2 linked regions of the Homo sapiens genome follow. The protein of the gene in region 1 interacts with the protein of each later gene in a pairwise test. Each region holds a gene or a part of one and is shown on either strand. Other genes may lie near its edges. The genes, in order: INPP5F and TRPV2.

Region 1 (7,332 bases):
CCCCGTCTGGGAAGCGAGGAGTGTCTCTGCCTGGCCGCCCATCGTCTGGGATGTGAGGAGCCCCTCTGCCTGGCTGCCCAGTCTGGAAAGTGAGGGGCGTCTCCGCCCGGCCGCCATCCCATCTAGGAAGTGAGGAGCGCCTCTTCCCAGCCGCCATCACATCTGGGAAGTGAGGAGCGTCTCTGCCCGGCCGCCCATCGTCTGAGATGTGGGGAGCGCCTCTGCCCCGCCGCCCCATCTGGGATGTGAGGAGCGCCTCTGCCCAGCCGCGACCCTGTCTGGGAGGTGAGGAGCGTCTCTGCCCGGCCGCCCCGTCTGAGAAGTGAGGAGACCCTCTGCCTGGCAACCACCCCATCTGAGAAGTGAGGAGCCCCTCCACCGGGCAGCTGCCCCGTCTGAGAAGTGAGGAGCCTCTCCGCCCGGCAGCCACCCCATCTGGGAAGTGAGGAGCGTCTCCGCCCGGCAGCCACCCCGTCCGGGAGGGAGGTGGGGGGGGTCAGCCCCCCGCCCGGCCAGCCGCCCCTTCCGGGAGGGAGGTGGGGGGTCAGCCCCCCGCCCGGCCAGCCGCCCCGTCCGGGAGGGAGGTGGGGGGGTCAGCCCCCCGCCCGGCCAGCCGCCCCGTCGGGGAGGGAGGTGGGGGGATCAGGCCCCTGCCCGGCCAGCCGCCCCGTCCGGGAGGGAGGTGGGGGGGTCAGCCCCCTGCCCGGCCAGCCGCCCCGTCTGGGAGGTGAGGAGCGCCTCTGCCCGGCCGCCCCTACTGGGAAGTGAGGAGCCCCTCTGCCCGGCCACCACCCCGTCTGGGAGGTGTGCCCAACAGCTCATTGAGAACGGGCCAGGATGACAATGGCGGCTTTGTGGAATAGAAGGCGGGAAAGGTGGGGAAAAGATTGAGAAATCGGATGGTTGCCGTGTCTGTGTAGAAAGAAGTAGACATGGGAGACTTTTCATTTTGTTCTGCACTAAGAAAAATTCTTCTGCCTTGGGATCCTGTTGATCTGTGACCTTACCCCCAACCCTGTGCTCTCTGAAACATGTGCTGTGTCCACTCAGGGTTAAATGGATTAAGGGCGGTGCAAGATGTGCTTTGTTAAACAGATGCTTGAAGGCAGCATGCTCGTTAAGAGTCATCACCACTCCCTAATCTCAAGTAATCAGGGACACAAACACTGCGGAAGGCCGCAGGGTCCTCTGCCTAGGAAAACCAGAGACCTTTGTTCACTTGTTTATCTGCTGACCTTCCCTCCACTATTGTCCCATGACCCTGCCAAATCCCCCTCTGTGAGAAACACCCAAGAATTATCAATAAAAAAAAAATTAAAAAACAAAAAACAAAAAACAAAGTTAAGCCACCTGGACTGCTGACCTGCAACATTAGCAGCCTCCAGGCAGGCTGGGGGAGGGGGGAATATATTTATATAAATATAAATCTCTTCTTTTGGGAGATTTCTCATAGACAAGACTGAAGAAAGTTATCACAGACAACAAACAAGACTATGGACAAGTAGACAGAAGACAGGAGATGATGTTAAAGTCAAATCTCACCAGAGGATACCAAAATCTAATCCAAAGATCTCAGAGATATTGAAGGGCTAAATCGATAATCACAGTTGGCTTATTTACCATCATTTGTGTAGGTTTAACTACGTGGACACATTTCCTCACATTGATTTCAGCACTGGAAGGGAACACTTAGTGATCATCTCTTTTCATAAATAAGGACCCTGAGATCAAAAGAGATTGAGTGAACTGACCAAAATCACACAGAACTGGCTAGAACCAAACTCCTTAGTGATTATACTTAAATTAGCATATATATGCCATACACGTAAAAGAAGATATATAATATGTATGATGGTCATCTGTGTTTAAAAAGGAGAGCAGCATCACGTGAACTTTCCATTAAAACCTGGGTGGCATCGGGGCAGGAGGACCTTGAATTAGGAAGCTGGAAGAGGGTGATGAGGCTGGCAAGTTAGCCACAGGCCGAGGATAGGCTAGCCAGGGAGTGGAGAGGCTGCAGTGGCCAAGGTTCAGGAAGTTCATAGCAGAAACAAGGCAAGGCAACTGTGGCAGTAGATTGGGGATGTGACATCTACCAGGGACAGAAAATATGTGCTCTTTTCACTCTGCTCAGCCAGGCTAGAGCTGTGCCTACCCCACAGCATGTGTTTGGAGCCTGAGGGAGACAGCAGTGTGCATTGGGGTCAGATAATTACAGAAGCATCTCCCCTCCATGTTTTCCTCTCTCCTAAAGACTTTGCTTGTTAACTCTGCATTTACAGGTAACCAAGCCCATATGATGGCATTAGTTAATGACTGACTGCTGTTTTTTTCCAAGCTGCTGTCAGGCAGATTTTACTAATTAATTTCACTTAAAATAGTGGTGTTCAAGCCTGACTGCATAGTAAAGTCATCTGGGGAGCTTAGAAAAAATAAACAAACTGATGCCAGAGCCCCACCCCAATTAAATTCTGATTTAATTGGTCTAAGGTCCAAGCATTGATATGTTTGAAAAATTCCCCAGGTGATTCTAATAGGCAGCCAGGGTTGGAACCATGGATCTAAAACATCAGGAAAAGTTTCAATGAACTAATTAATTGTTTTAAAACAGTTACAACAGCATTGTTTTCTTCACATCTGGCAATGTAATTCATAAAACAATAATGAAATAATTTGCAGGATACAATGTCTTCATAGGATTTTCTCATTCTCATTTTTGCTAAGTCAACACATGGCTGAATTAAACAATCAATCTGAAACCGATGGTTCCACTGAAGCTTCTTATAGCTTCATTACCTTCTTTCTCCAAATCACATCACAAAGATTTGATAGAGTAACCACCTCCCTCGACCTTTATGTTGAGGTGTCTGGACAGCACAGAGGCATGGTACTTAGAAAAGATTCCAGGACGCTTTGTTATCATTGGACTTTCTGTGCTATGGAAATTCAACACTGTGGGCTGGAATAACTAGTCATGTGGAACTCCTTCCTGCTTTTGTACCCTCTCACTTTTACTTGAGCAGAAGGTTAAAAGTATTGCTTTCTGAGAAGTCCCATTCGGTCACTCCTCTCTCTCGCAAGAGAGACAGCTGTTCTCCCTTTTCTTTTGCCTATAAACTTCCGCTCCTAAACTAAAAAAAAAAAAAAAAAAAGTATTGCCTTATTTTTCTCATCTCCTACTTCTTGTCTTTTTCTCTTGTTTCCGATTCAGGCATTAGAGAAGGCAAGGAGTTAGGAGTAGGAAGACTCAATGATTTATAGAACTGGGGGTGTCATAAAAGGTCATTAGTTCAACCACCATCTGAGACCAAGAGACTTCCCCAAGATCACACAGCTAGATAGTCCTCGAACTGGCCCCGGAAGTGGGGGCCTCATTCTCCAGACCCATTCTGTTCAGGATATCAACTGGTTTTTCAAGACAGACTGAGCTCAAGGATGTTTGGGGGAGACTCCTCCTTCCCCGAGAGGGTCTCCATTCATCTTATCCTCGCCAAACGATATTCCTTCCGCTTGCTTCATTAACTGGCTCCATTTGTGAAGTCTTCTCCAAACCGCCCTGCTTAATTCGGGACACAGCAGCACCTGTACATTCCTCCCTTCCTCCTCGCTCTTTAGCCGCGTGCTGCTAATGCTTGTGTGTTTTCTATTGTTACATGCTTTCCCTCGTTGATGTGCATTTATTGAATGCCTCCTGTTGTCAAACTTCTAATAGGGAATACGAAAACAGAAGACGCCTCCGCTTGGCTGTGGGCCTGGCTGGGGATGAACCCCTGTAGCCAGGCCCCGGGGTCTCGCCTGGTTTCGGTACGGGCAGGCAGCGCAGGCCCGCGGGGAACGTACCCCGCACCGCTCCGGGAGAGCGGGTGTGGGGTTGGATTCAGGTCTCGGCCTGGCGAAGCGTGAGCGCCTCCCTGCACGGAGGGGAGGCCCCAGCGGTGGGCGCCTGTCCCCAAGGCCGCGCGGAGGGAGGCGGTCAGTCCAGACCGACTCGGCCGAGCTCCCGAGCTGCCACCGGTGACCACGACAGGAAGGCTGGCGCGCCGGGGGAGGGGCCTGGGCAAGAGCGGGAGGGGCGGGCGGAAGGACGAGAGGGAGGAGGAAAGACCCGCGGGGAGGAGCTGGGAGGAGACACCCGGGAGAAGGCGGAGGAAAGGGCAGGAAGCGGGAGGGAGCTGAAAGGAGGAGGAGGCTGAGGGGCGGAGCCGGGCGCTCGGGGAGAGTAGCCAGCAGAGGGGGTGGAGCCGGGCCTGGGGCGGAGCCAGGGAAGGGGAGGAGCGGGGGGGAGAGGCCTCTACGGCCGCCGCTGCCGCCGCCGCTGCCGGGGCGCGTTCTCCTCCTACCGGTCGGGTGCCCCGGGGCGTTCCCTCTGCCGCTGCTTCTCGGCGCGGTTCCTACCCGGCCGCTCCCCGAGGCGCGGGCTCTGGCGGCCTCGACCGACTAGGACGCCCCGTGCGCCGCCCGCGGGCCGCCGCCTCCCTGGGCGCGCGGGGCCAGCATGGAGCTCTTCCAAGCCAAGGACCACTACATCCTGCAGCAGGGCGAGCGCGCGCTGTGGTGCAGCCGCCGCGACGGCGGCCTCCAGCTCCGACCCGGTGAGGCTGGCGGTGCGGGCGGGGGGCACCCCGGGCCAGGGCGGGGAGAGGAGGGGGCGCGGCCGGACCCCTCAGCCGGGCGGGAGGAGCCGCCTGCGGGCCTGGTGAGGCGGGGCGGGGCGGGCTGCGAGCGCGCGAGCTGTCATTATTCCCTGACTGGAAGGAGCCTGGCCTTTCTCCGAGACAGCGCCGAGCCCCTACCCCAGTGCGGAGCAGAAGGGGCTGGCGACCCTCGTCCTTCCCACCGCGTCACGCGGCCGCCCTTGGGGCTTGGGGCCCAGGCCGAGGGGAGGGGGTCCCCTCCGGCAGAAAGTTCCAGCAAGGTGCACCTGGCCGTAAAGGCCTCTTCCTCCTTGGAGTAGTTCTTACATGGCCTTCGCCAGAAGTTCTGGGTTCGAATTCCGATCTGGAGCGGTTGCGCCAGTTCCGTCTAGGGCTCTGCTGGACACTCACTCCCTGTTGCCATCCCGTGTGTTCTTGGTCCCTTATTATTAAAGGTGTGACTTTACTGTGGTTACCTCATAGGCACTCGGTTTAAAGCCTTTGTCTTTGACTTTAATACCACAGCACAATTAAATTGTATTGTAATGTATAATTTTGAGATTTTTGTGTGACTTGATGTTGTGCGACACAAAATGTATTGTGGGTCCATGTTTGGGTGTCATGTAAGCTGTTCGGAGAGGCTTAAGTCTGCAATTAGCTTGCTTTAGGAAAATGTGTGTGCAGTCGTGGTTTAAACAGAGCAGTCCCTGCCCTCAGAGCGCTGACAGTCCAGTTTCTTGTAAGATGGGGCTGGGTGGCACCTGCCCCTTTTGGCTTGCTAATCCTTTCCTCATATCACTCAGAGATTCTTCCACTTTAGGGAAAGCGAGAGGATAGAGTTCTTTAAGGAAGGAGCCAGAGCTTTTCAGACTTACTTGTAATTCTTATGTGCAGTCTAGACAGAAGGATTACATGATATGAATTGAAAAGGATAAAAGGTTCAGATGAGCTTTTCAGATCACAGCGTGGTATCACTTATAGGATGGTTTTTAAGGACAGGCCCTTTAACATATTATTTCCAATCCCCACAGCAACCTTACAGGACACGTGTGGGATCCTCTTTTTCAGGTGAGGAGAAAGGAGTGAGAGGTTATTAGTAACTCGTTCGGGGTCACAGCCTAGAGTTGAGACACTGACACAGGGCAGTTCTGTGACCTCCAGAACACTTTTGGGCAGGCCCCACTGCTTTCTTAGGAAGGCCTACTAGTTGCTTTGCCAGAGCAGTGAAGGATAACTTATTTTTTTCCTCAGGCTCTGTCTATATTTTCTTGCTATTACGTTGTATTTCCTCTTTTCAGAATGGAGGATAAACTCCTTGGCCCAGATAAAGTTCTTGATGATCTCGGGATAGAGTTATTATGGATAGGCTAATTTTGGCCAGTCTTCTGTCATTCTCTTCTCTGATTTGACCATTTGTCTGGCTTTCTCCCCTTCCCTCCTTTCACTCCCCCAAATTTGGGTAAGGCTTCAGTACAGCTTGAAGTAAAGCAGATTTCAAAATTCCTAGGTTGTCAAAAGAGTCAACTCCTTGGATTCTAAAAGCTTAGACTATTAGAACTGGATGGGACTTAAGATCGTCTCCAACTCATCTGACAACAAACTTTTCTACACCCCAGTTTCTTGAACTATAAAGGCTAACCTGCGCCTAGATTCTTGGATGAAGCCATGCAGTTTGGATTACTGTTTGTTCAAAGTCCATGTCAGAAGGCAAATTTAAAACTTTTTTGGGGGAGGAAAGTAGCTATAGCCTTTGCACTTGAGATTGGCATACTTTTTAGAATATAGCGGGCCACAGACCAAGTAGACCAAATGTCTGGAGGAAGGAAGAGGCCATGTTTCAGAAGTAACAGCCAGTTTTGATCTTAAGGTGTTCAGGATAGCCAGGGAATAAAGAATCCCATGCACTTGATTTTCCTATAGTTTATCCTGTCCAGGACTGAAGATCCTTTCTAACTAATGGCTATTTAAGAATGGCATTTTAATTGAATAAGTGCTTTTCAGATCTTTTTCTGTATATGGAATCATTTAAAATTCTCTTTATTTTATTGGACTTTTCCCCTGTGCTTTTATGGCAAGTTTTGCTGCTGTTTGTAGTGACAGCATTTAAAATCTTTCATTGTTTCCTACTGGTTATTTAGCTGAATAGATTACTAAGTCCTTTTCTTTTTTGAAAGGGCAGTATTATAAGCTCAAAAAAGCTTGTGGGCATCGTGGTTTTTACATTCGTGACTATTGAACAACCTGAAACAAGAGTTTTCCTTTTTCTAGAGACATCAGAAGGATAAGTAATGATGATATTTAAGATTAAAATACTCATTTATTTAGCCTGGAATGTTTGTTACTGTCAACCCCTTTTCCTACCTAGTCCATTCCATAAGACCCAGCTCAGATGCTACCCCTCATCCTTGGGGCAGAATTATTGGCCACCTTTATTGTGTTTCCAGGCATTTTCTACACTTAGTGGACACTTCAATTCTAACCCTTATGCATCATCATAATAAAAGTTTGCCTACTTCTTCCCCGGTGGGAAGTCCCAGTGTGTTCCCCAAGGCAAGGGCTGTATTTACTCCTCATCTTGGTGTCTCTAGGCTTTAGAGTACTTAGGACAGAGAAGGCGTTTTTGTTTGAGTTGAGCTGAATTAAAGTTAAGTCTAAGTTCTCTCTCAGTAATATCATTGCCTTAAAAATAAGATGTTGT
Region 2 (5,194 bases), on another chromosome or scaffold:
GCATGAATTTGGGGAGAGTGCTAAGGAGGGAGGGGCAACAGAGGTGGAGGGGAGGAGGTGTCTGGAACTGCTTGGGCAAAACCGTGGGGGTCTCGGGATGTCAGCTAGGGCATTCTGTGGGTACTGGGGAGCCTCTCAGGCCTTCAGAGCACAAAGAGGACATGTTTGTCTTATGTCTTAGGAAGGCCCTCTGGCTGCCCTGCAGAGAATGGCTTGGGAGGGGTGGGAATTGAGCAAGAAGCTCGGTAGGAAGAGAAAGCAAGAGAGGTGGCTTTAATGGGTTTTCCCAGGTACCTGCCCAAAAGCAGGGTGGGTGTGGAAAGCAAAGGGTGTCGTGGTGGAGAGAGAGGAGAGGTGGCTGTTTGCCCATGTCCATCACCATATATCTGCCACAACAATGGGCACAGCACCTCAGCCAGCTGCCTGTACCCAGGAAGAGGACAGTCCCCAGACTTGGGGATGTGGGGGTGAGGGTGGGGACACAGCAACTGAGGGTCTCTGTGCCCAGGCAAGGGCAGGAGCAACCTAGTCCCATACACAGACCTGTGCACACAGAGACATGCAGACATTGCCAGCTCTAAGGGTCCCAGCAACTCTGCCCAAATAATGTTTCCAGAAGAGTTAGTTAGTGAAAATATATATTTGCCACCAGAATTCACTGGGACCCCAGAGCCAGCAGATGTGGTTGGAAAGATCCTCTGCTCTGTCCTCTGGCCTCCTGCTGCATCTGGGCCATCAGTTGGACTGGAGGAGCTGGACGGGCACATAGTTTTCCTCAGAGGCACCATCCTCATCCTCCTTGGGAGGGGAAGCCAGGACAGGGTTCTCGAGAGTTCCTGTAAACAGATGGCAAGCACTGTAGCTTAACCCTTGAGTGTGTCCCCAGGAAGCAGGCACCAGGGAAACGGGGCCACAGTCATGAAAACACGTCATGCCGTGGGGACAGCCTCAGCGATCCTGGAGGCCAGCAATCCTTCTCCCTGCTTCCCTCACTCCACAAGCATTTCCCAATCCCCTGCCATATCAGGGGCTTCCCCCTGCCCCTGCCACCCCCAGGAGCTTAAAGTGCCTGGAGGTGACAGACTTGTGTGTCAGAGATCAGAACACCTGAGACATGCTGGGGGAGCTCAGAGGAGAGAGGGGACCTGTCCTGCAGGGGCGGTGGCAGATTTGGACATCCAGAGGGGAGGAAGAGCACTTCCGACAGAGACGAATCCAGAGATGAACCAAGGAAAGCAAAGAACAAGGAGTACTGCAGACATGTGGATGGAGGTGTGGGGAGTGAGTTAGACAGCTTTGGGCCCTGACCTCCATTCTGAGCAGTGCGGCCTTCCAGGTAGTGGGAGGCATTGTGTAGCGTGGGCTGCATGTGGTTTTTGTCCACATTAGCAGGACTGCAATGGGTAAGAGTGCAGGCTGGGCCCCCCTGCAGTGGTGCAGAAGTAAGAGGCAGGGCAGGGCAGAGGGATGAGTGGCCGCCTGAGGGGTCAAGGACACTCAGCTCCAGGTGGGAGAGCTGGTATAGCGGGGGGAATAGGCTGAGACTCTCAAGGCCTTCCACCTGGGTGAGGAGGGGGTGGGGTGACATACATGTGACCTGCTGGGGCAGCCCCGAGGCTGTTCCTGTTGGGAATGTCACATTGGAGGCCCCAGCAGGCAGTGGGGTGTGGAGTGCTTGGGGCAAGATGAGGGAGGGACAAGGTGACTTTCAGAGGTGACTTTCCTGGCATTGTAGTGAAGAGAGGGAGATGCAAAGAGAAGGTGAAGGGAAACCTATCTGTATGTGAGGCAGTGGTCACGGCCCAGGAGCCTGGGAAACCAGCAGGCTGTGGGGCAGAAGAGGCCAGAGGAGCCTCCCTACAACAGGGGCCATGGGAGACTCAGGAGGCTATTGTGGGGGGCAACAGGCACAAGCAAGTGAAATTTGTCAGGAAAGAGATGGAGAAAGGAGAGGAGGTGAACCAGTGGAAGGTGGGAGCTATTGAAGGTTCTAGAAAGAAAGGGTATGCAGTGGGGACAGCTAATCCTCAGAACAGGCCTCTGAGGGTGGGAGGAAGGAACCAGTCTTGGTGGAGGCAGCAGGGTGGGGACAGGAGGGGCCATCACTACACTGGAACGGAGAGGACACAGGCCACGGACATGGAGGAAGCATGGGAAGTGGTTTCTCAGAGGTGGGGGACTTGGGGTGTGAAGGGACTAAGGGCCTATGCAGGGCAGTTCCTCTGAGGGTCCAGGGAGATGCTGCCTCTGTTGTAGGCTGCGCTGTGACACAGCCCTTCCTAACTTATTCCCCTGCTGAGTCCCCAGGCTCAGCCCAGGCCTGGCTGGGGACAGACCCTCGATAACCAATTGAATGGGCAAAGGGTGTGACTGACTGGCATCAGAGAGAGGGCAGCCAGAGGCTGGGCTGGTGGAAGCGCTAACAGCCTCAGAGGTTTCCCCTGGTTCCTGCCTGAAAGCAAGGTGTGGGTGGAAAGGAAAGGAGGGAACCACTGTTTTAAGGAGGCAATCCCTCTAAGAGGAGCTGGCATGTGGGGATCTGCAAAGGGACTATGAGGAGGTCTCTGGGTCCTGCCCCAGACTCTCCAAGGCTTTGTGGCCAAGCAGCAGAGACACACACCCCAGGGCAGAGGCTCTAGTCACCAGGCTACTCACGAGGGACACCTGCCCCTGACGGGTCCTCACACAGCGTAGGCAGCGTCTGCTCCCATGAAGCCCAGTTCACCTCCTCCACCCTGAGGGCAACAGAGCAGCTCTGAGGTTTGCCTGCTTTGACCGCCTCCCCTCCCACCCCGGAGAGGGGCGTGGCCCCCCAAATTGGGAGACTATGCAGAGATGCTCTGGTGGACACAGAGGCCCTGAGGAGGACAGGCTTTTTCTCTGCAGGGTTCTGGGCCACCCACTTGGAGCCCTGTCCTGTGAGGCAGGTGCTCACTTGCAGGAATCAGCATCCATCGCTTCTGGCTGTTCACAGCAGCCTGGGTTGCCCAGAACAACCAGAGAAGAGGAATTCAGATCAGGTGTATCTGTGCTTCCGGGTTCTGGGGCCTATCATGGCTGCTCCTCATGCCCAAGACTCCGTCTCTCTGCTCATCTGCTGCCTCACGACAGTGTCTGTTTTTTTTGTTGCTGTTGTTTTCTTTTTTTTTTTTTTTTTGAGATGGAGTCTCGCTCTGTCGCCCAGGCTGGAGTGCAGTGGTGCGATCTCAGCTCACTGCAAGCTCCGCCTCCCAGGTTCATGCCATTCTCCTGCGTCGGCCTCCTGAGTAGCTGGGACTACAGGCGCCCGCCACCACGCCCGGCTACTTTTTTGTATTTTTAGTAGAGATGGGGTTTCACTGTGTTAGCCAGGATGGTCTCGATCTCCTGACCTCGTGATTTGCCCGCCTCGGCCTCCCAAAGTGCTGGGATTACAGGCATGAGCCACTGCACCCGGCCGACAGTGTCTGTTTTTAGCTGTGTGTTTGTCACTAGGTTCCCTCTCCCAGTGTCCCAGCCTTTCCTGGACACAGAAGGGCATGTTCTCCATGGAAGGGGTTGTAGCTCAGAGATCAGGCTGGCAGAATTGGGGGTGGGGGGACACAGAGCAGCCAGGGCAATGCTAGAGTGCTAGCAACCCAAGGGTCCCTCTGACTTCTTGGCCTCCTTACCGTAACACATTTCAGGCTACAAGGAGGAGTCTGAGATCACCAGGAGGGGACCTTCAGTTTAAGCCACTGGGACAGGCAGATGGCCAGTCATGTGGCAGCCATGGCTTGTGAGATCCAGACCCCTGACCTCACCTGCTCAGGCTCAGTCCCTGGTGCTCTTTGGGCCTGCCCTTCCCACCAGACCTGGCTCCTGGCAGCTGTGCCCTGCACTGCAGGGGGGCCCCAGGGATTGCTGGACAGCAAGGCCCCCAGGAGACCCTCCCACCACTCACTCACCTGAAGCACCAGCGCTCATCGGGGCTGCCATCTGGCTTAGTGCCAACGGTCAGCATCACACCTGCCCGCTGCTTCTTCCTGCACCACCAATAGCCATTCTCCATCTCCAGGACAGAGATGGCTTTCTGGGGACAAAGGATGCATCAGACAGAACGTCCTGGGACCCTGCCTGGGGGCAAAGGCACACAAGGCAAGCGGAGCAGGGAAGTGCCGCGCAGCACTTCACAGTATAACGCGAAGTCAACTAAACACGCGGATTCGAATCTGGCTCCAACATCCGGTTACCTGTGTGGGGTTGGGCCCTCAGCCTCTCTGCATCTCAGTTTCCCCATTTGTAGACTGAGGACAAAGTGCCTCAGACAGCTGATGGGAAGTCTGTACCTTATGAGTACTGGACAGCTACTTGCTCTTACATCGTTCCAGGCTCCAGATTGCCACACCACCAGGAACAGAACTTCATTTGCTCACCCCACACATGTGCCTGCCCAGAGGCACACCAGTGAGTCAGGTGGGGCACAGAACCTTGCAGAGGAGGGCACCAAGGCTCAGAGGAGATAAGGGGCTTCCCCAAGATCAACAATGAATTGGCAGCAGGGTGGGGCATGGTGGCTCATGCCTGTAATGCCAGCACTTTGGGAGGCCGAGGCAGGTGTATCACCTGAGGTCAGGAGTTCAAGACCAGCTTGACCAACATGGTGAAACCTTATCTCTACTAAATACAAAAAATTAGTGGGGTGTGGTGGCACATGCCTGTAATCCTAGGTACTTGGGAGGCTGAGGCAGGAGAATCGCTTGAACCCAGGAGACAAAGGTGGCAGTGAGCCAAGATTGCACCATTGCACTCCAGCCCGGGCAACAAGAGCAAAACTCTTGACTCAAAAAAAAAAAAAAAAGAAACACTGGACAGCAATGATGATAAGAGTAGCTGGTAGCACATTGAGCACCTGCTTGGTGCTGGGCACTGTCCTAAGTACATCTATGAGCTTAAAGGAGGTGGGAGTAATCTCAGCACTTTGGGAGGCAAAGGTGGGAGGATCACCTGAGGCCGGGGCAACATAGTGAGACCTTCTTCTCTACAAAAAATAAAAATATTAGCCAAGTGTGGTGGCAGGTGCCTGTAACCCCAGCTACTCAGGAGGCTGAGGAAGGAGGATCACTTGAGCTCAGGAGGCCGAGGCTGCATTGAGCTGTGATCGTGCCACTGCACTCCAGCCTGGGTGACAGAGCAAGACCTTGTCTCCAGAAAAAAAAAAAAAAAAGGAAGAGGA

What was found.
Region 2: the proteins of INPP5F (region 1) and TRPV2 interact in a protein complementation assay, tested with the Homo sapiens proteins (one study listed by IntAct).

What each region holds. Positions count from the first base shown.
Region 1 is NC_000010.11:119,721,768-119,729,099, forward strand, and holds the start of INPP5F (phosphatidylinositide phosphatase SAC2), read left to right. Parts: upstream 1-4,282; 5' UTR 4,283-4,495; coding exon 4,496-4,592; intron 4,593-4,728; exon of another isoform or gene 4,729-5,089; intron 5,090-7,332. UniProt on the Homo sapiens protein: Inositol 4-phosphatase which mainly acts on phosphatidylinositol 4-phosphate.
Region 2 is NC_000017.11:16,432,431-16,437,624, reverse strand, and holds the end of TRPV2 (transient receptor potential cation channel subfamily V member 2), read right to left. Parts: intron 4,052-5,194; coding exon 3,927-4,051; intron 2,736-3,926; coding exon 2,656-2,735; coding exon of another isoform or gene 2,648-2,655; exon of another isoform or gene 2,644-2,647; intron 837-2,643; coding exon 736-836; 3' UTR 622-735; downstream 1-621. UniProt on the Homo sapiens protein: Calcium-permeable, non-selective cation channel with an outward rectification. Seems to be regulated, at least in part, by IGF1, PDGF and neuropeptide head activator. May transduce physical stimuli in mast cells.